Regions from separate parts of the Homo sapiens genome. Here regions 1 and 2 are each reported to be linked to region 3. The links are microRNA targets in miRTarBase. Many come from high-throughput screens and were not tested one by one. Region 3 holds a microRNA gene; each other region holds the end of a gene's coding sequence.
What was found. The annotated mature microRNA hsa-miR-5703 reads AGGAGAAGUCGGGAAGGU and lies in region 3 at 5,193-5,210, shown strand. An mRNA with a match to its seed (bases 2 to 7 or 8) in the 3' UTR can be bound and repressed. Matches are read on the target gene's strand: a 7mer-m8 pairs with bases 2 to 8, a 7mer-A1 pairs with bases 2 to 7 and ends in A, and an 8mer does both.

Region 1: the mRNA of LCE1B is a reported target of hsa-miR-5703. Seed matches in the 3' UTR shown: 7mer-m8 at 1,033-1,039 and 7mer-m8 at 1,131-1,137.
Region 2: miRTarBase lists SLC25A36 as a target of hsa-miR-5703. Seed matches in the 3' UTR shown: 8mer at 4,082-4,089.

What each region holds. Positions count from the first base shown.
Region 1 is chr1:152,811,827-152,819,027 of GRCh38, forward strand. It overlaps LCE1B (late cornified envelope 1B), which reads left to right and starts at 145. Exons shown (of 1, transcript NM_178349.2): 1 at 145-1,282. The coding sequence starts at 621. The coding sequence ends at 977.
Region 2 is chr3:140,975,530-140,982,730 of GRCh38, forward strand. SLC25A36 (solute carrier family 25 member 36) reads left to right here. Exons shown (of 7, transcript NM_001104647.3): 7 at 731-5,466. The coding sequence ends at 924. Among named protein-coding and RNA genes, the nearest start is that of SLC25A36, 37 kb to the left of the region's middle.
Region 3 is chr2:227,466,970-227,474,170 of GRCh38, forward strand. MIR5703 (microRNA 5703) reads left to right here and starts at 5,163; the gene lies at 5,163-5,218. AGFG1 (ArfGAP with FG repeats 1) reads left to right here and starts at 5,187. Exons shown (of 13, transcript NM_004504.5): 1 at 5,187-5,619. The coding sequence starts at 5,453. LOC124907994 (a long non-coding RNA gene) reads right to left here and starts at 5,130. Exons shown (of 2, transcript XR_007088114.1): 1 at 4,191-5,130; 2 at 3,819-4,020. RefSeq lists an enhancer at 4,100-5,063 and a silencer at 5,176-5,895.

The DNA of each region.
Region 1 (7,201 bases), not on the chromosome of region 3:
TACGGTAGACAAACAAAATATAAGTGCTGAGCATTCAGTACAGGTGTTTGTCTGCTGAAAAATGTCAGAGCACTGGACTAAGTCAGAAACCTGTATACAATTCTCACTTAATTCAATGATATTTTTCCTCCAACTTCCTTTGCAGTTCTGAACTTCTATGTCCTTACAACAAGGTAATCTAGAAAATTCTTCCAAGAGAGAATGACTGTTTCCCCTTGAGAAACAATTTTATTTCCAAACCCCTTTCTAGATTGTTTTCATGATTCAGGTGTGTAGTTGAAGCAGAATGTCTCCTCTACATACTACATGCTTGATTTTGAGAATACTTTCTTAATATCTTTTGGCTTCGGTTTTCTAATTATAAAATAGTTGAAAATGCTTTATGATTTTATAAGTATATAAAAAGCATTAGGTTCAAAACAGAGGCTATAAGTGTGTTTAGCCAACTATTAGACACAATGAAACTTCCCGTGATTAATTAGCTACAACTACACTAAGCAGTTCATCAAAATGTAGGGATTAGAAATGATGCTGAAAGGGCAAGAATAGGCCGGGGTGGCCTCTACCTGGGTCTAACTTGCTGTCTGACTCTCTCTCAGCTCCTGAACACCCGCACCAAGATGTCCTGCCAGCAGAACCAGCAGCAGTGCCAGCCCCCTCCCAAGTGCATCCCCAAGTGCCCTCCCAAGTGCCTCACCCCTAGATGCCCCCCAAAGTGTCCCCCTAAGTGTCCTCCAGTCTCTTCCTGCTGCAGTGTCAGCTCCGGAGGCTGCTGTGGCTCCAGCTCTGGGGGAAGCTGTGGCTCCAGCTCTGGGGGTTGCTGCAGTTCTGGGGGAGGTGGCTGCTGCCTGAGCCACCACAGGCGCCGTAGGTCCCACTGCCACAGACCCCAGAGCTCTGGCTGCTGCAGCCAGCCCTCCGGGGGCTCCAGCTGCTGTGGAGGAGGGAGTGGCCAGCACTCTGGAGGCTGCTGCTAAAGTGGATCCTGAGCCTAGAAGAACACAAATGGCCAAATATTTCCCTTCCGTCTTCCTTCTCCTTCTGGGCCTGCCCATGTTGTTGAGAGGTCTTGGTGAGGGCTCAACTCAAGCATAGAGGATTCTTCTGTCTTGGAGTTCAGAGGCCCAAAACTTCTCCCCCAAAGCCAAGCCATTTAATGACCTCAGTTTGCGTATGTGTGGTTGCTCTGGGAAGCCCAAAGCACAGACCTATATCCCTTTGCAGCTTGTCTTTTTGCATAGCTCAGCCTGATGTGAAACAATAAAACCAGAAATATGCATTCCTTTTTGCCTTGACTGATTGTTATTTTTTCATTGCTTTTCATACTCTGTCCTCATCTCCAGGCTCTCCCAAGATGTTAGTATCTACAGACCTTGTTCAAATTTAGCCAATCTTCCTACTAATATCCTTTATAACAAAAGACAATTTTGTTGGTTCAAAATCCAATCCAGGATCTCCATTGCCTTGACATAGTTGCCATGATTCTTCAGTCTCCTCCAAACCGAAATGGCTCTTCAGTCTTTCTTTGTCTTCCTTGACATTGACCTTTTTAAAGAACTATTGGTTTTGTAGAATGCCCCTCAATTTGGGTTTCTCTGATGTTTCTTCTTGACCAGGCTCAGATTACACATTTTTGCAAATATCCTACAAAAGTGATGTTGTCCTTAGAGCATGATATCAAGCCTTACATGATGTCTAATTGTCCCATTCCTGGAGATACAACTTTGACCACTTGATCTGCCAGCTTTCTCTATTGCAAATTTAATATTTATTCCTTTGAATTAAAAACTTATGAAGGAGAGAATAGTTAAACTTCTTTTTTGAGTTGGAGTCTCACTGTCGCTCAGGCTGCAGTGCAGTGGCACCATCTCGGCTCATTGCAACAACCACTTCCTGGGTTGAAGCATTTCTACTGCCTCAGCCTCCCAGGTAGCTGGGATTTCAGGTGTGTGCCACCACGCCCAGCTACTTTTTGTATTTTTAGTAGAGATGGGGTTTCACCATGTTGGCCAGGTTGGTCTTGAACTCCTGACTTCAAGTTATTTGCCCACCTCAGCCTTCCAAAGTGCTAGGATTACAGACGTGAGCCACAGCCCCCAGCCTAAACATCTATTTTGTTTCAAACATTTTCCCAAAACTTTTTTAGTATAATTGATGTTCTTTTACAAAACTGTTATTATTATTATAGTGTTGCTGGTATTGTTGAGTATAGTTTTTTAAAATATATTTATCTCATACCCTGAGTCTATGTACATATGTAAAGCAAAGAGAGGTGGTGAGGATGGGTCCTGAGCAAAATCAGCAATGTCCTGCAACACAACTACTTGAAGGAAGGCCATTACAATTTCTTCTTGTTGAACTCTTATTATATCTAATTTCCTGTGATGACCATCCTTATCCATTTATCTCTCCTACATTATAACTCTACTTTCAGGTAAATTCCTATAACACAATGTTTTTGTGTAAAAAGATTTGCTTATTATAAATTTAAACTCATTACACCTCAATAAGTATCAAATTGCTATCCAGAATTGTTATGCCAATTCACATTGCCATCTCAAAATATGTTTATTACCAACTGTCACATACTATTTTGTTAGTCATTAAAATAATTGTCATTTTGAAATAAGTAAATAAATCTGTTAGTCTCCTTTCTCAAATTCAAGATATTTCTTTTTTATTTTGTTTGCATTTGTTTGAATATCAGTAAAGTTGAACATGTTTTTTGAAATTTTTTTTGTTTGCTTGTTTTAAATGGAGTTTCACTCTTTTGCCCAGGCTGGAGTGAAGTGGCACAATCTCGGCTCACTGCAACCTCAGCCCCCTGGGTTCAAGCGATTCTCCCACCTCAGCGTCCCAAGTGGCTGGGATTACAGGTACCTGCCACCATGCCCTGCTAATTTTTGTATTTTTGGTAGAGATGGGGTTTCACCATGTTGGCCAGGCGGTTCTCGAACTCCTGACCTCAGGTGATCCACCCACCTCAGCCTCCCAAAGTGCTAGGATTACAGGTGTGAGCTACTGTGCCCAGCCTTTTTGAATTTTATTTGCCATTGTATTTGCAAAAATATGTACATATGTGATGGTTAATTTTATGTGTCAACTTGGCTAGGCTATGGTTCCTAGATCTTGCTCTAGCACCATTCACCAGTCTAAATGTTGTTGTGAACATGTTTTTTTTTTAGATGCGACTAATATTTAAATCAGCAGAGTTTGAGTAAAGCAGATTGCCCTCCATAATATGGGCAGGCCTCAACCAATCAGTCAAAGGTCTTAAGAGAAAAGACTGATATCCAGAGACGGAAAAAATATTCTGCCTCCAGGAACAAGGAATGCTTATACACTCTTGGTGGGAGTGTAAATTAGTTCTGCCATTGTGGAACACAGTGTGGCAATTTCTCAAAGACCAGCAATTACCATTCAACCCGGCCATCCCATTGCTATGTACATACCCAAAGAAACATAAACTATTCCATTATAAAAACACATGCACATGTATGTTCATTGCAACACTACTCACAATAGCAAAGACACGGAATCATCCTAAATGTCCATCAATGATAGACTGGATTAAGAAAATGTGGTGCCTATATACCATGGAATACTATGCAGCTGTAAAAAAGGATGAGATCATGTCCTTTGCAGGGACATGGATGGAGCTGGAGGCCATTATCCTTAGCAAACTAACACAGGAACAGAAAAACAAACACTGCATGTTCTCACTTATAAGTGGGAGCTAAATGATGAGAACACGTGGACACATAGAGGGCCTGTCAGAGGGTGGAGGGTGGGAGAAGGGAGAGGATCAGGAAAAATAACTAGTGGGTATTAGGCTTAGTACCTTGGTGATGAAATAATATGTACAACAAACCCCCATGGCGTAAGTGTACCTATGTAACAAACCTGCACTTGTACCCCTAAACTGAAAATAAAAAGTTAAAACAAAATCTGCCCTCAGAATGATTTTGGACTTGAGACTGCAACATCAGCTCTCCCCTGAATCTGCATCCTGCCATCCTTCCTTACAAATTTTGGTTTTTCCATCCCTGATAGTCACTTGAACCAATGCTGCAAAATAGTCCTCTTTCTCTCTTTCTTGCTCACACTTACTTTACCAAAACATAACAGAATCTAAAGGAATAGAATCTTAAGGACAAGTTTTCTGAATGAGTTCTGGGATTTCTGGAATTTGTTTTCTAGCCTAACTAGATTTAAATGCACTAATGAACCCTATTTCCCATAGTGAAGAGAACACTGATAGTAAATGTGGCTATAGGGATTTGCAAAATATCACTATTGGATGTTTCTAATCAAATGCTTATAAGAGACAAGGTTTTGAGTGGCTATGGATTTGCTACCTGTGAATACTTTTGTCAAACTAATGAATATAAAGAGATTGGCTGGTTTCTCCTCATTGTGTTAAGTGAGATGGGAGAAGAAAATGATGAGGTCCAGGATTTGAATCCTCAGTTTGTGCACCACATAAATAACCATGCAGCACATAAATAACCTGAAAGTTTCTATGTCTATTCTGAAAGAAACCCTTATCTTCTGTAGTCTCAGAGCTGAGACTGCTAAAAACTAAACCCAAAATCTTTTCAGTGAATGACTGAATTACAATGCCAATTAAATTTCCAAATTCTCAGCATGTCTACAGTTAAAGTGAGGCCACTGATTAAGAAGAAATGGGGGCCTGGCACAGTAGCTCATGCCTGTAATCCCAGCACTTTGGGAGGCGGAGGTCGGTGGATCACTTGAGGTCAGGAGTTCGAGACCAGCCTGGACAACATAGTGAGACCCTGTCTCTACTAAAAAAAAAAAATACGAAAATTAGCCTGGCATTGTGGCACACGCCTGTAATCCCAGCTACTCTAGAGGCGGAGGCTGGAGAAACACTTGAACCCAGGAGGCAGAGGTTGCCGTGAGCCAAGATCTCACCACTGCACTCCAGCCTGGGTGACAGAGTGAGACTCTGTCTCAAAAAAAAAAAAAAAAAAAGAAGAAGAAGAAGAAATGGGACCCTGAAAATTGGAATGAGGACCAATGAGAAAATCCTGATGACCATGGAAACACTATACCTCTGAGTTTGGTTTGGTTGAGTCTTCTTTGCCAGTAGAAGCAGCCTTTCTACACCCACTTGAGGAGGCTGACCCTGATTTTCCTAAGAAAACTGTAATGGGCTCCTGTGAGGCAGTTGCCTTGAAAGACAATGATGATTCTTCTCAGGACCCCTCCCTATCACCTCATTTTGCTTCTAGAGTGAAGTCCCAGCAGGTCCCCAATGGTGAGGTACAACATGTGACCCATGACAAGGGAGCACTACACTCCAAAAGAACTACAGTGTTTACAGACAGACATTTAGGGAATACATGTGGGAATGGATATTAAGAGTGTGGAACAATTGTGGAAAGAATAAAAGATTGGATGAGGCTGAACTGATTGCAGAGATTCTAGGCAATGTTACAGTTCGGGGAGTAAGAAAAGGCCCTAAGAGTTTGTTTGGTTGGCTGGTCAAAACATGGACTGAAAGGTGGCCTAGTGTGTGTGACCTAGAAATGACAGGCCTGCCTTGCTTTGCTGCAGAGGAAGAGATTCAGAGCATTAGGGAGATTGGAATATTAGAATGAATTTGTCATGAAATGACAAATCACCCACCGTGGAAGGTCCAAATGATTCACCTTTCATCACAATTGTGAAACATATGTTTGTGAGGCGAGGCTCAGCATCCTTGAAGAGCTCTAAAAAGCTTAGATTGGCCGGGCGTGGTGGCTCATGCCTGTAAGCCTAGCACTTTGGGAGGCCGAGGTGGGCAGATCACAATGTCAGGAGATCAAGACCATCCTGGCTAACACAATGAAACCCCGTCTCTACTAAAAATGCAAAAACTTAGCCAGGCATGGTGGCACACACCTGTAATCCCAGTTACTCAGGAGGCTGAGGCAGGAGAATTGCTTGAACCCGGAAGGCAGAGGTTGTAGTGAGCCGAGATTGCGACACTGCACTCCAGCCTGGGTGACAGAGAGAGACTCTGTCAAAAAAAAAAAAAAAAAAAAAAATCTCTAACATTTAAGTCTTTAATCCACCTTGAATTAATTTTTGTATAAGGTGTAAGCAAGGGATCCAGTTTCAGCTTTCCGCATATGGCTAGCCAGTTTTCCCAGCACCATTTATTAAATAGGGAATCCTTTCCCCATTTCTTATTTTGTCAGGATTGTCAAAGATCAGATAGTTGTAGATATGAGAAGGTAGCCATCTGTAAGCCAGAAAAGGAGCTCTCATCAGAAAACAAATCGACTGGCACCTTGACCTTGGTGGCTTCCCAACCTCCAGAACTACTAGAAATAAATTTCTATTATTTAAGCCACCTAATTTATAGTATTTTGTTATGACAGCTCGAGCAGACTAATACACTGAATTATTACAAGCCTAGCCAGGGGGTGACTCCATTTACAGATGTACTAGATGTGGTATTTCCTTGAGCAAATTAGCATATCCCCTATTATGCAGCTATTGATCTGGATTTTTTTTCTTCTTACCTATTAGTAATGACTACCAGAATCAGGTTGTTTTCAGCTGGCAAGGGCAGCAATACAACTTCACTGTCTTACCTGCCACCATGGCCACTTTGTTCATGAGCTCATTGGGAAATGACAGGAGAGGCTGGGCAAAGAGTCTGACTGGTATCCACAGAATAGGTTATCCTATCCACTTATTTATTAAAGTCTCTGCTAAGGTTATTGTTTAGTAAACATTCATATGGAACACAAATATCTTACATTTTTTGCTCATTTAAAGAGCTCTCTGCACATACCCCTTCCCCTATTCTCCTTGAGTAGCTATTGTTCTCCTCACCCTGTCCTCTGCAGGTGGTGGCCTTGGAACTTCAGGGGCCAGTGGGACACACTGGCTTGAATTGGGGTCAATGAGGGCAGGAGTGGGAAGGGACTTCCAACGCTGTTTGTCCTATGTCAATTGGCCTGAAGCAGCATTGCTTGTGACCAAGTCTGAAATGTCTTTTGTAAACACAGCTTCTTTGCCTCTGGTCCCCTTCAAGGCCCTGACTGGTCTCTCCATGCTCCTCTCCCTCTGTGAGCGCCACCTTCTCCTCCTCACCTAGCTCCACCCAACATCCTTCCTCCCTCACACATGTATGCACATACACACACATCACATGCAAATACACACACTTCCACACAAGTAC
Region 2 (7,201 bases), not on the chromosome of region 3:
CTGAAAAAATTTGAGGAATAGTGGATGTAAAAAAAAGTAGTTACATAGGAAGCTGTGAGTTCTTGTCCCAGCTTCTACCCACAACTGGCCAAAATTTCTCAGTAGCTCCAATTTCTCACCTTTTAAAATGAGGAAAAATTGGACTGACTAATCTTTAAGGTTCATTCAGCTCTTAAAAATTTATTATTTTTGCTTACCTGATTCCCAGACTGGGTTTTATAGCTGGCAGCTAGTGTTTGGAACATTGTCAACTTCTTTGTCCACATGATGTTTCACATTCATATATGTGGACTGTTTTGAATAGATTAATAATGCTATTGTTTCTTTGTAGTACTCACTTTAAACAAATCTTTTCTGCTTGTTTCTCACTGTATCCTTTTTATATTCATCCTGGATGCCACCTCTTTACTGCCTCTTCACCTTTTCCTCCTTCTCATTTCTATTCTTCCTTTTATCTGTTTATCTAGCATACAACTGATACTTCTCTCTTGTTATATTGTGTCTTTTTACATTCAAAGACTATAAAGTCTATAATTAATGTACATGATTTTGGCCATATTAGAAGTTTGATGTTACTATAATGTGACTGGTTTCAATAAGCTACACATTAGAAGCCATCCTTTTTTATCCTGAGCTTACACTTACAGACTGATAAATGGGATGTGCTCAGTTATAATTAGAAGAGTGTAAAGATATCAGTAATGTTTAATTTTATTTCTTTCCTACACAGAAGTTGTAAGAACAAGACTACGTGAAGAGGGAACAAAATACAGATCTTTTTTTCAGACTCTATCTTTGCTTGTTCAAGAAGAAGGTTATGGGTCTCTTTATCGTGGTCTGACAACTCATCTAGTGAGACAGATTCCAAACACAGCCATTATGATGGCCACCTATGAATTGGTGGTTTACCTACTCAATGGATAGCAGCACGAGGACTGCTGTACTGCAAAAAAAGAAGACCAAAAGATTACAGTGGACCATGGGATACAGAAGCCAGCATGGCAGACAGAAGAAAAATAGTTTGGGAACATGTAACTATTCTAAGTGGAAGTTTTGTTGTAGGAATTATAGTAATCACACCACATTACTTGGCCTTTCGGTAATGTGAAAAAAAAAAAAAACCTCAGAGCCTCCAAGGAAATGCCTTTAGAAGCACTCCTCTCTCAAAATTGCCATTTTCTCTACCATGTCCCCCAGACACAGTTGGGTTTTGTTGATTTATGGCAGTCTTCTAAACAAAGCCATCCTTAATTTTACATACTGTATTGTAACTATCCAAAGATAGTATTGGCAGTCATAAATTTATAACTTCTGGCCTTTGTTTAATTCCAGTAAAATAACAGCAATGACAATGAGATCGTCAGTATTATTTTCACATTTCCCTGAGAGGACCTGGCACAATATTTTAAATTTAATTATTTGGCAGTAGTCACTGTTTTTGACAACCAATGAAATAGCGTCTAAATATCTTGTATATTTTTTAGCATCAAAATGTTTTGGTTTCCACTGCTGACAGGTGCTTGTTGTTTAGCCTAATGTGGATATTTAAATTGTTAACATACCAAACACACATGGTAATAGTTTGGGACAAAATAACTAGTAAAATGTTGATTTCTCGGCTTTTTCACTGACTGCGGCATGTCCTCGTGTCTTCTCTGATTTTGTGGTACATGAATGAATGCATTTATCTTTTTAGTGACTTACTAGTTACGAACTTGAATTATCACCTCTTTGTCATACTTAAGTATCATTTACATAAAGTGTAAAAGATTTTTTCACTTTTGAATCTTTACCTACTTGCTTTCACATTAAGAATTTGAACTTTTGAGTTTTTTCCAGGTCTATATATAATAGATTACATTTATTTTGTAAAGAAAATAGTAATTTAAAGTTTTGCCATTTTAAGGTGACAATATTTGGGACAGTATAAATATTATAGACAAGGGCCCCCTTGCTGTCTGCTTTAGCAGGTAGTGACATTAATTGACTTATAGTTTTGTGTAAATGAACAAACTGCTTTTGACAAGAAATTTATTCTGTCCTAGTTTCCTGCGTGGTAAATCATAGAAAGATTCAAGTTCATTTGGGTTAAATGTGCTAATAGGATGTAGCTTTTAAATTCTGCTATTGAGTCAGCTGTACCTTTTAATACTTTAAATGTGTTATTTGTATGGCCCTTATAAAGGTGTTTGCTGTAATTCTGTTAAAAGACTTCGCCTATGCCATACTGGTGTATAAAAACTGCCGCAATTGGACGCCGGTGTGGTACTCATTTCAGTATACCTGAACTGTACATTTTGTGCAATGGCTTTATCTAAAAGAATGACGCTTCGTGAAAGCACTTTGTGGCCTTTTTTGGGGGGGAGGGTGAGAGAGTAGGAGAGAATACCATGTTAAGATTAAAAAAAAAAACAAAAACATTGGTCACGTATTAGGCAGAAACAGTGTTCATAACATTTTTCTGGGTTTTAAATATGTTGTTTCGGATATCCTTAATATAAATGTTTTAGGTATTCTGTGTACCCTGTCGTACCCCCAACATTATAGAATATTGCAGCGTGTCATTGCAAGCTTTCTCTGCTGTCACCAGTGAAACATAGTGCCCTGTTAAATTCCCCCACTTTAACTTCCTTGTGATCAACAGTAACTGGATGTTTTTGAGGTGCTCAATTGGAATAAAAATATTCCAATCTATTTGGAGACCAAAGGCAAAATCAGTTTTCTTACCTTTGGAATTATTCGTACCTTTTATGGTAAATTTCAGCTTTGACATGTATTATGAGGAACGTACCAAAAACCGGTTTGTAACAAATCTGTAGAGAAGGTCTGAATCTATCGTGTTTGCCTTTTCAGGTGCCATTTCTACTGCCTAATACAGTGCCATTTGCCTTGTGAAGACCCATAAACATTCATTGTGTTGAATGTAAGATAGAGACTCTCCCTAGTCTTACTGATCTCAGTACCCCACAAATGATTAAGAATGATATGAAAACCAGCAGCTAAGGAACATCTTATTATTTAGTTGTAGCATATTCATAACAAGTGTCCTTCAAGGATAAACATATATTCTCTATTTGTATTTAGCAAGTAAAACTTGTGTTGACCTTTAGTGCATTATATTCAGCTTTTAACAGTATTATGTATGTACTGGAAAGCAAAGAAATCTTAGAGTCTTGGACATTGTTTATTTGTGCAACAACTAGAAAGGAGCAATGAAGTTTATTTCAGTTGTATTTTTCCCTAAGCACAATCTGCAATAGTTTATGTATGACAGAGATAATTCAAAAAGGAAAACTATATATAAAAGTTGTATATAAAGTTTGTCTCTGAAATATTTCTTTGAAGTTTTTAAAAAATCGACTCATGTTTAAAAACAAAAACACATATTCAGAGCATTGGACTTTTTTAACTTGTTTTCATCTGTTTATCATGACTTTTTTATTTCTGGTGTAGAGTCCACATTATTTAGTTTGTTGTACTTTTAAATTTCAAAGTTCAAATCTGAAGAATTAGCGTTTGTGATTTCGGGATACCATGCAGTGGTTTTAATCCCAGGAAAAAAACTATCACCAAAAGTTCGTTTGATTCTCATTATGTAACTTTGTAGAACCATCCTTTCTAGATGGGTCCACCACAGTGAATTTGTAACTTTGAAGTCAGGATAGAATATCATTAGATTATCTGTGAGATAGCATTACTATGTTAGGACCAGCAGAGTTTGGGTTGGTAAAAATAATGTTTGCTCTATTACTGGGTTACAGACATTTCAGCATTTTTAGGTTGGTTTTAAATCACTAAAAATATTTATTCGGATTTGAAGGATTTAAGTGCTAAAAATCAATCCATTTCTTGCCCTTCAATAATTGTCCATGCCTGCCTTTTGTTGTTTACATGCTCTTCTGCCCAGACTGTTAGTAATCTAGGGACCCCCTTTGGAGCTGATAAGTACAGTTCAGCCTTTTCTCCTCAAATATATAATGACTTTAACATTCCTAAGAATATAGGTATTTCTGAATGATTTAAATTTGAGGAATTTTAATACATAAAATACAATGTACAAACTTTCTGCCCACTCAGATCTCTTCTCCATCATGTACTTAGTATTTCCCATTAACCTACACACTGATTTTTATGCTACTCCTTGTAGAAACAAAATTCTGGTTTGACTCAGTTTTTGTGTTTATAAACTTTTGGAATGTGTACCCCGTTTATGTGAAGAATTATGACCTATCAGTCATAGCTAAATAGTGAACCTCAAAAGTGTTAACTTTTGACTATTCATGTGAGGTTTGGTATCTTGCATTTATGTACATGGCTGTAAATTATGTGCATTTACTCTGTATTTATGTTATCTAGCTGACTTTTACTTGAATTGTTCAAATTTTAAAAATTAAAATACGCTCATGAAAATATGGCTTTTTCTGTAATATATCAACATTTTATTGAGAACATAATCACACTTTTTTGGATTATCCTATGTGTGGAACAAAAATCCATTGCCATTTTCAGGTTAAGTTTTAGGCTCGCTTGATTCAGTCAGCAAACCTTATCTTGAGCACTTTGTATCTGTTAGATCTAGTGATGTCTGAAGGAACCCAAAGGTCAAGTAATCCAACTCCCTCATAGTGTACAAAGAAATCTTGCATATCTTCCACAGGTTTATTGACTTTTATCCAACACTTTTCATGTTTTAATTTCAGCCTTTGTGAAAGTTGATATTAAAAATACAGAGGTGAGAACTTGTTAGAATAACCAAATGAATCCACATAATGTTAGATCAAAATACAAATGACAAAGATAAAATGCTATGTAGTGCCTACCCTCTTTACATTTTGTCTATTTTATTTAAGTTTTTCTGTATTGTAGTTAACATCAAACATTGTCCAGTCTTGAGGAAACCAGGACGAAATATATTTTGTATTTCAACATTGACATAAATCTGAAATTGTTGGTTCTACTAATAGTACTCTGCACTGAAGGCACTGGCAAAATAATGGTTAAAATTGAGCACAGGTGTTCCAAGTTGTGTGTGTGTGTTTATTACTGAACATTGGGAGCCGTGATAGGGAAGTAATTTGTGAGTTCATGATTTCTTAAGGTTCTAGTGTGACATTTATACACTGATAAAACTCAGGCAAGCAAAATGTAATTAAATGTTCCCCCTGCCCCCCCCCCCTTTTAATATATATACACGGAGCTTCACTCTTGTCACCCATGCTGGAGTGCAATGACATGATCTCAGGTCACTGCAACCTCTGCCTCCCGGGTTCAAGCGATTCTGCCTCAGCCTGACTTCCCTTCTGTTTCTTTATTTTCGCACTGTGTAGACCAGCTGACTGCCTTAATATGTATTGAATCAATTCAAGATTTATGTTCATAGAGTGCTGTGTTTATACAGTGGTGTCATGTGATTTCTTAATAGCCTATAGATCCAATAAATACAGAGGAATATTAGTTACAACTGGAGTTTTTGACTTGAGTGCTCTGAATCTTAGTCCTGTGTTTTTTTATTTACTACACTAGGTTATTCACCAGCACTTGACAATAGATAGATGTTTTAGAAACTTCGTTCTAAAGGAAAGATGGATAGAAGTTGGCTCTGAATGAAACATTAGGAAGTAATCAGGAACAGAGTTGAATACATAAGAACAGTATGAACTGTCTAGAAGCTAACGTATATAGACCTTAGGTTACATCCTGAGGCCAGTGGAGAACCTCTCAAGGTTTTTTTCTCCCAAAGAATGATTAGCAACATCCTAGAAAGCCAGACTTAACAGATACTAGTTTGTCTTATGTAAGTTGCTCTTAATTAATACTGTCTTTGAGCCTCGGGAGTGTCAGAAGGTGATCTGTGTTCTCTGAAAGTAGTAATTCTTTTAGCAAAATCTTGGTTGCATGGAGAAAATGGCATTTTAACTAGGCTTTGAAACAGATAAAAAATTTTACAGGCTGACATGGGGAGGGGCATTCTTTGTTAAAGGTCAAAGTGTTTTAGCCCAAGTTAGGAAAAATAACCCATTTTCTTTTGTTCTTATCTCCTAGGAATTGACTCAAAAGGTGTAAATGTCTTGAGATTTTAAAACCAGGGGTAGACCAGGATTCCAAACCTAATGTAACTCAGGAGCTTATCAAATCCAACCAAACAATTTAGTACTAGACCTCTGATTTTCTGTTTCCCAGTCCCCTCCCTGCTCTTCCAATGCACTGTAGAATTCCTCCTTGAGTCATTGTCAAGGATAAATAGCCCTAACATTCTTCAGCCATTACTTCTGAATCTTACCTTTTAAGGTTCTCCAATATGATCGATCTCCTTAGTATGAGCTTAAGTGTTTTAGTGGCCCAGACTATTTGATCTATACCTTCCTAAATTAGATACTGATTTTTAGGGTTTTTTGTTGTTTTCCTAACTTGGAAAAATTGTGCTGGAGCAACTGGACATCAATATGAATTAAAATGAAGCATTATTTCACTTCGATGATCCAATCATCTCCCACCAGAACCCCCACTTCCAAAATTGGAGATTACATTTCAATATGAGATTTGGGCAGGGACACACATCCGAACTGTCACTGTACATTTAAGATTTGTTCATGTTAAGCATTTTTAACCTAATGCAAAATAAAAGCATAAACTAGATACTTATCTCTTTAAAATACTTTACCCAAAAGACAGCAAAGAGATAAGAAGAGGACTATATGGAAGAAAAGTTAGGTATCATGGAGAATGGGATAAGTATGTCTAATGTACTTCTGATCGGAGTTCCAGAGTAAGCAGAGAGGATGGAGAAGAGACAATATTTTAAAAGGTAATTGGAGGCCAGGCACGGTGGCTCACGCCTGTAATCCCAACACTTTGGGAGGCCGAGGCGGGCGGATCACTTGAGGTCAGGAGTTCGAGACCAGCCTGGCCAACATGGTGAAACCCTGTCTCTACTAAAAATACAAAAACTAGTTGGGTGTGGTGGCGGGCCCCTGTAATCCCAGCTACTGGGGAGGCTGAGGCAGGAGAATCACTTGACCCCAGGAGGCGGAGGTTGCAGTGAGCCGAGATTGCACCACTGCACTCCAGCCAAGGCGGCAAAGGGAGACTACTTCTCAAAAAAAAAAAAAAAATGATTGGAAAACTCCCAGCGTTGATGATAAACATGAATCCATAGCTCCATGAATCACAATGCATTCTAAATAAGATTAAAACATGCCTA
Region 3 (7,201 bases):
GTCTGACATGTTTAGGCATGTCAGGAAAGGATCTCTGAAAAACAGATATTAAGCTGGATCTGTTATGGTTGAGAAGGGAAAGTGGAGATGGAAGACCATTTTTACCAACAAAAATAGTGTGTGCAAAGGCCCTGTGGTGGGAGCCAGGAGAATGTAAAGAACTGAGAGGAAGTAGGGCTGGAGCAGAGTGGTGGGGACTTAGAATGGTGCCCAAGGCACTGGGGCACGGGGCAGAGGCCAGGGGGCGGCGGAGGGCAGGTGGGCGCTGCTGGGGGATGCTGGGCTAGGCTGGGAGAGACCTAGGGTGAGCAGGAAGGAGGCTGCCTGTGCAGGGCGTCTGAGCCTCTGAGGTTTTCTTTCATCCTAAGAGCAATGCAAAAGCTTAAGTAGGGGGAGGGAACTGGGGACATCTGAATCACATTTGGATTTTGAAGAGATTACTCTGGCTGCAGTGTTAACATCTCTAAAGGTAATTTCTGCTTTGCAAGTCCAATAAGCAGGATCAGTCTTCAGTCACTGGAAGCAGAAGCTGGTGCCTTGGCAGCCAGATCTGGGTTTGAATCCTGGCTTCATGCCTCACTTCTGGCATGGCCTTGGGCAGGCCAGCCTTTCAGAGCCTTAGTTTCCTCATATATAAAACAGCGGTAATAATACCTCTTTCTGCGTTGTTATGAAAGTTACGGAAATTAAAGTAAATAAGTAGTCTTGCTTGATACACAGCAAACTCTCCTTGGGATATTTTAAAGTAGAAACCAACTTTGATACTATGTATGGCATGAAACAGCTAACATCCAAAAGGGTTGTATAAACTTTCAGCTTGAGGAAAACATTCGCCTTCCTACAGGTCTATAGTTTGGAAATACTGCACCTACATTTGTCTCTCTCTCTCTCTTTTTTTTTTTTGAGACAGGGTCTCGCTCTGTCACTCAGCCTGCAGTGCGGTAGCACTCGCTCTGTCACTCAGCCTGCAGTGCGGTAGCACGACCATGGCTCACAGCAGCCTCAACCTGCTGGGCTCAGGCAATCCTCTGGCTTTAGCCACCTGAGTAGCTGGAACTATAGGCACATGCCACCACACTCAGCTAATCAATTTTTTTTTTCTTTTTGTAGAGACAAGGTCTTACTATGTTGCCCAGGCTGGTCTTAAACTCCTGGGCTTAAGCAATCCTCCTGCCTTGGCCTCCCAAAGTGCTGGGATTACAGGCATGAGCCACTGTGCCCAGCCTTACTCCTGTCTCTTTAAAACAACTAAAACACAATAATCAACCAACCACTCATTCCACTGTTTGCATACATAAGGTGCTACAGCCATGCCTTCTGATTTTGGAATTTATCAGATGATAGACCATGGAGAGATGAGCAACCAGAGAACAAACAAATGACAAAGGAGCACTGCAAATATAGAAACAAATAAGCCACTGGCTGTGGCGTGAGGGCATTTGTTGGTTATGAATAAGAGACTGCTGGGTGTCATATTTAGCCAGCATGGGGCTGGTCAGTAAGCCTTCTGTTTGGATCAGTCAAGAATTCAACATTGCTTTCATCTCTTGAATGGCCCGGGGCCCTGTCAGAATATAACTCCAGGGCCAGTCTCAATGGCTCATGCCTATAATCCCAGCACTTTGGGAGGCTGAGGCTGGTGGATCACTTGAGGTCAAAAGTTGGAGACCAGCCTGGCCAACATGCTGAAACCTCATCTCTCCTAAAAATACAAAAATTAGTCGGGTGTGGTGTCGGGGGCATCTGTAATCCCCGTTACTTGGGAGGCCAAGGCAGGAGAATCACTTGAATACAGGAGACAGGGCTGAGATTGCACCACTGCACTCCAGCTTGGGCAACAGAGTGAGACTCCATCTCAACAACAACAACAAAAACTTCAGTTGACTTCAGGATTAAGTCAAGGGTCTTGTCAAAATACTCAAAAGCCAGCTTTCAGTGGTTCCCACTGGCCAATGATGAGACAATGTGAGCACTGGGGATGTAAAATATATTAAATACATTTAAATCCTTGAGTTTGTAATAGCACTTTAAAAATATTGATCGCCTAGCCTGGGCAACATAGCGACAGCTTGTCTCTACAACAAATACAAAAGTTAGCCGGGAGTGGTGGTCCTAGCTTCTTGAGGGGGTGTGCCGAGGCAGGAGGAACACTTGAGCCCAGGAGTTCGAGGCTGTAGTGAGCTATGATTGTACCATTGTACTCCAGCCTGGGTGACTGAGTGAGACCCTGTCTCCAAAATATAAATATAGATATATCTATATATCTCTGTCTATATATATTGATCACCACTGGAAGGTGAAATGAAGCCAATACATTATTTTGAAAATTTGTGAATAAAGGAAAGGAATCAAATATTTATCCTGCCTTTCTGACATGTACTATACCAAATAAAATGGTAGATGAGGGGAAATTTTTTCTTTATAGAAAATTTGAGCTGATAAATGAAGGAATGGTAGAATTAGTTTTATTTATTTATTTATTTTTATTTTTTATTTTTTTGAGACAGAGTCTCATTCTGTCACCCAGGCTGGAGTGCAGTGGTGGGATCTCAGCTCACTGCAACCTCCACCTCCTGGGTTCAAGCAATTCTCCTGCCCCAGCCTCCCGAGTAGCTGGGATTACAGGTGCCTGCCACCATGCTCAGCTAATTTTTGTATTTTTAGTAGAGACGGGGTTTCGCCATGTTGGCCAGGCTGGTCTCGAACTCCTGACCTTAGATGATCCTCCTGCCCCAGCCTCCCAAAGTTGCTGGGATTACAGGCGTGAGTCACCGCACCCAGCCAGAATGGCAGAATTAGAATATCAGTATTTTCTAATCATTAATGAATTAATGAATCTAGACATTAATCATCAATGGTTACCAACATCATGAAAAAGATATCCTCTCCTCAATTATGTCCCTCTTGATGGAAGAACACAATGAAATGAATGCCTGCCCCGCAAAAATACTGAACTGGATACTAGTGAACTAGATCTAACTACCAATTTTTAGGAAATAGAACAGAGGGACATGTTAAATGATACAGATTATGAGAAACTCTACAGAATAAAGTGCCCAATTACTAAAACAAATGAATTATAATTAAAAAAAAAGAGATGGTGGAGAGACCCAAAGAAACCTTATGAGACATATTACCCAGTTGCAAGGAGTGGGTTCAAACAAACTGTAAAAATCTCATTAAAATATTGATAATTGCCAACTTAAACACTAGTGCGATATTTGATGATCTTTAGGAGTTATTAACTTTTTTTTTTTTGAGGCGGAGTCTTGCTCTATTGCCCAGGTTGGAGTGCAGTGGCACAATCTTGGCTCACTGCCACCTCTGCCTCCCAGGTTCAAGTGATTCTCCTGCCTCAGCTTCCCAAGTAGCTGGGACTACAAGTGCATGCCACCATGCCTGGCTAATTTTCATATTTTTAGTAGAGACCCGGTTTCGCCATGTAGGCCAGGCTGGTCCTGAACTCCTGACCTCAGGTAATCCACCTGCCTTGGCCTCCCACAGTGCTGGGATTACAGGTGTGCGCCATCGTGCCCAGCCTATTGTTAACTTTTTAGATATGCTAACGGTATCATGGCTAAGTTTGAAAGAGATAAAGTTTTTATTTTTTAGGGATACAAATGGAACTATGTACCATTTAGATGAATGGTACGAAACCTAGAATTTGCTTTAAAATAATAGGAGAGGGGATGGAGGGTTGAGGTATTTATAAAGCAAGATTAGCCATGGGCTTAATCATTGCTGAAAGTGGTCCATGGGCTCATGGTAGTTTGATATTTTCCATAATAGAAAAGTTTAAAAACATTCATTGGCCAATCTATCTGTCCATTTCTTTTAATATTAAAAACATTAATTATTATTAGTAGTATTATATTAATATGAAGTCTCACTTTGTTGATTCACCCAATCCCTTTCATGAGAGATGTGGAGGTTGGTCTTGGCTGTTAGGAAACGTAGATTCTAATCCATTCAACAGCCCAGTGATTTGAGAACTTCAGCTCTCTGGGTCTCCCTGTACTCCTTTGGAAAACGAGAGACGAAGTTGATTGTTGCAGTGGGGATTTGGGTCCTGCAGTCTGGCTGTCTGGGTTGGAATTGAGCTTCGCCATAGGTACCCTTGGGTAAATTTACTTAATCCCTCAGGGTTTCATCTTCCTGTTTTGTAAAATGTAAATAACAATAACGCTCACCTCGAAGGGTTGTTGTGAAGATTACATGAACGATTTCATGTATTCATTCCGTCAACATTGAACACCTAGTCTCCAGCTCTGCGAGGGGAATGGGGTGGAGTGGCACAGAAAATACGGGGGCCAGGCTGTTTAGCGCCTAAAGGGAGAGTCCAGATCACCCATGGTAAACACGAAATAAGATGCAGTATTTCAAATAGCTAGAACTGAGACGAAAATACAACGCAGCAATTTGATGGAGAGCAACTTCGAGAAAGGTGAGCTGCAACATTAACTCGGCTGATCTGGGACAGTCTGGCGGGGGAGGTGACATCTGAGCCCCACCTGACTTAGAGGATGTCAGCTATGGATGATCCGGGTTTCCACACGCAGCAGTTCTCAAGCCAGGTGACTGCACCGCCCTAAAGTTCCCTCCACTTTTGGCAATGTCTGGGGATTTTTGGTTGCCAGCAATGGGAATTGGGGGGTTTGTTCTTGTATCTAGTGGGTATAGGCTAGGAACGCCGCCCAGTATCCTACAGTGCACAGGACACCCCAAGCCCCCCCAAATTAGCTGGCCCAAAGATAAAGAGAGAAGAGCAAGGGCAAAGGTCCTGCAGGAGTCAGAAAGGAGCTTGCTGTGTTCAGAAAACTCAAAATCCAGTGTGGCTGAGTGAGGACGACGAAGAATGAGGTAGACTGGGCTAGACTATGGAGCACTTTTTACGGCACGGTGAGGAATTTGGAATTATACTCAAAGCAGTGGAAAGCCCTTGAAGAGTTTTAAACAGAAGGGGAAGGTAACCCATGTGAAACGCTTTGCATATATAAGCGCTCAATAAATACTGTCTATTATTAATATTATTATCACCATTGTGTCTACCCTACTTGGCTCCAGACCCGGCCCATGCCTCAGCGAGGCCGCAGTGACTCCTCCTGGCCAGCAGAGGGCGCCAGCGGACACTTGGCTACCGGCCGCCCAGGGCGGGCCTCCTCTTGCCGTCCCCTTCCTCGTCTTTTCCCCTCAGGAGAAGTCGGGAAGGTGGCGGCGGCGGCGGCGGTTGTCCCGGCTGTGCCGGTTGGTGTGGCCCGTCAGCCCGCGTACCACAGCGCCCGGGCCGCGTCGAGCCCAGTACAGCCAAGCCGCTGCGGCCGGGTCCGGCGCGGGCGGCGCGCGCAGACGGAGGGCGGCGGCCGCGGCCAGGGCGGCCCGTGGGACCGCGGGCCCCCGGCGCAGCGCTGCCCGGCTCCCGGCCCTGCCGGCCTCCTCCCTTGGCGCCGCGGCCATGGCGGCCAGCGCGAAGCGGAAGCAGGAGGAGAAGCACCTGAAGATGCTGCGGGACATGACCGGCCTCCCGCACAACCGAAAGTGCTTCGACTGCGACCAGCGCGGCCCCACCTACGTTAACATGACGGTCGGCTCCTTCGTGTGTACCTCCTGCTCCGGCAGCCTGTGAGTGCGGGGCGGCCGGGCGGGTGTCGGGCCCTTCCCGGGAGGTGGGGGAGCGGGCGGCGGGACCGGGACCCTTCCGGGGCTGGGAAAGAGCCGGGTGCCGTGGGAGGCGGTCGGGGGCGGCCGTTGGGCGCCGGCTGGCGGGCGCGGCGTGGGAGGCTGCGGGCTGGATGCGCAGGGCCCGGGCAGCCGGGCTGGGGATGCGTTTTCGGTTTTGCCGGGCGAGGGTTTACGTTCTGGGCAGCCTTCGTGGGTGGGACGTGGGCGGGGTTGGGGTCAGGGAGGGGGCGACCGGGGCGAGCGTCCCTGGTCTCCGTCGAGCCTGCGGCCGCCGCCCTCGCTCTCCAGCTACCCGGGGCGCCGGGCTGTGGGGGGTGGGGGAAGACGCTAGGAGGCCGGGGGGGAGGTCCATGCGGGTCCTTTGTGTGCCCCGCCTCTCAGCGGCCCGGGAGCCGCGGTGCGGAGCGAGGCACCTGCTGGGCGCTCCTGCTGGGGGTCGGGGAGAAGCTGGGGTGGGAGGGAGGGACGCCTGCCTCGCCCGTGCCTTTTTTCTGGGTCGAGAGTACCTACGTAACTGGGAGGAAGCAGGCACTTAGGAATAGTAGCAGGATGAAAGCATCTTGATGGCAGATGTGAATCCCCTGGGAAAAGTTCGAAAGGATTAATTGCGGGAGGGGGAGGCAGAGGAGCAGATTTGAAGCTGTGGGATTTTAGTTTTATGGTCCGAAGAGAGTGTTGAGGAGTTGGGGGAAAGTTTTAATGGCAATAAGGTACCCACTAGGAGCTGTGTGATTCTAAATATGATGGAGTTATCTGTGAGATTTATCTGTATCTCGCTATCAATACCCGAGTGCCCTGGCTGTACACAGAAATGAGGAGAGCTAGCAAGTCACCATGATTTCAGAAAGACACTACCGTCCTGAGTTACTGGGATGATTTGTGTTTGTTGTTCTTTGCTTCATTAAGCTTTATTTTGATAAAGATTTTTATTGCCGTGCAATTTCATTCGGAAAATTTGCAGGTGGTTTTGGAATTGATAAAATGCTTTTATATTATTATCTTGTATTTAAAGTTACTAACAACGTGGCAGTTACTAAGTATTTTTAAAACCTTTGCTTGTAAGATTAATACAAAGCACATAATACTTTATGTGGGAAAATTGATTTCTTAAAACTTAGAAAATGCAGAACATGTCTAGTATGTACTATTTGCTTTTTAAAGTTGGGCAAAGAGGCATTATTAGTATTACATGAGTGTTATTTCTTCAGCAGACATTTTTTTTGGTGCCTATTAGGTTGTGTAAGGCCCTGGGGTGTGCCAGTAAATATAGCAAAGTCTTGTTCTCTTGGTTCTTACAGTCCAGTGGGGATGCAAAAGTAAGAAAAATGTCTTGGGCAAGTACTATGCTGAACATGAAAATTGTTTGATAGGAGAGTGCTCATGGTTACTTTTAGGCTGTGTGGCCAGGGAGACACTCTGAGAAGTTGCCAGTTAATAATATTCTCGAATTACTACAGAATCACAGAGCTAGGTGATATCAAGGAGGTAGCCTGGTTCATGCATTTCATTTACAGAAAAAGGA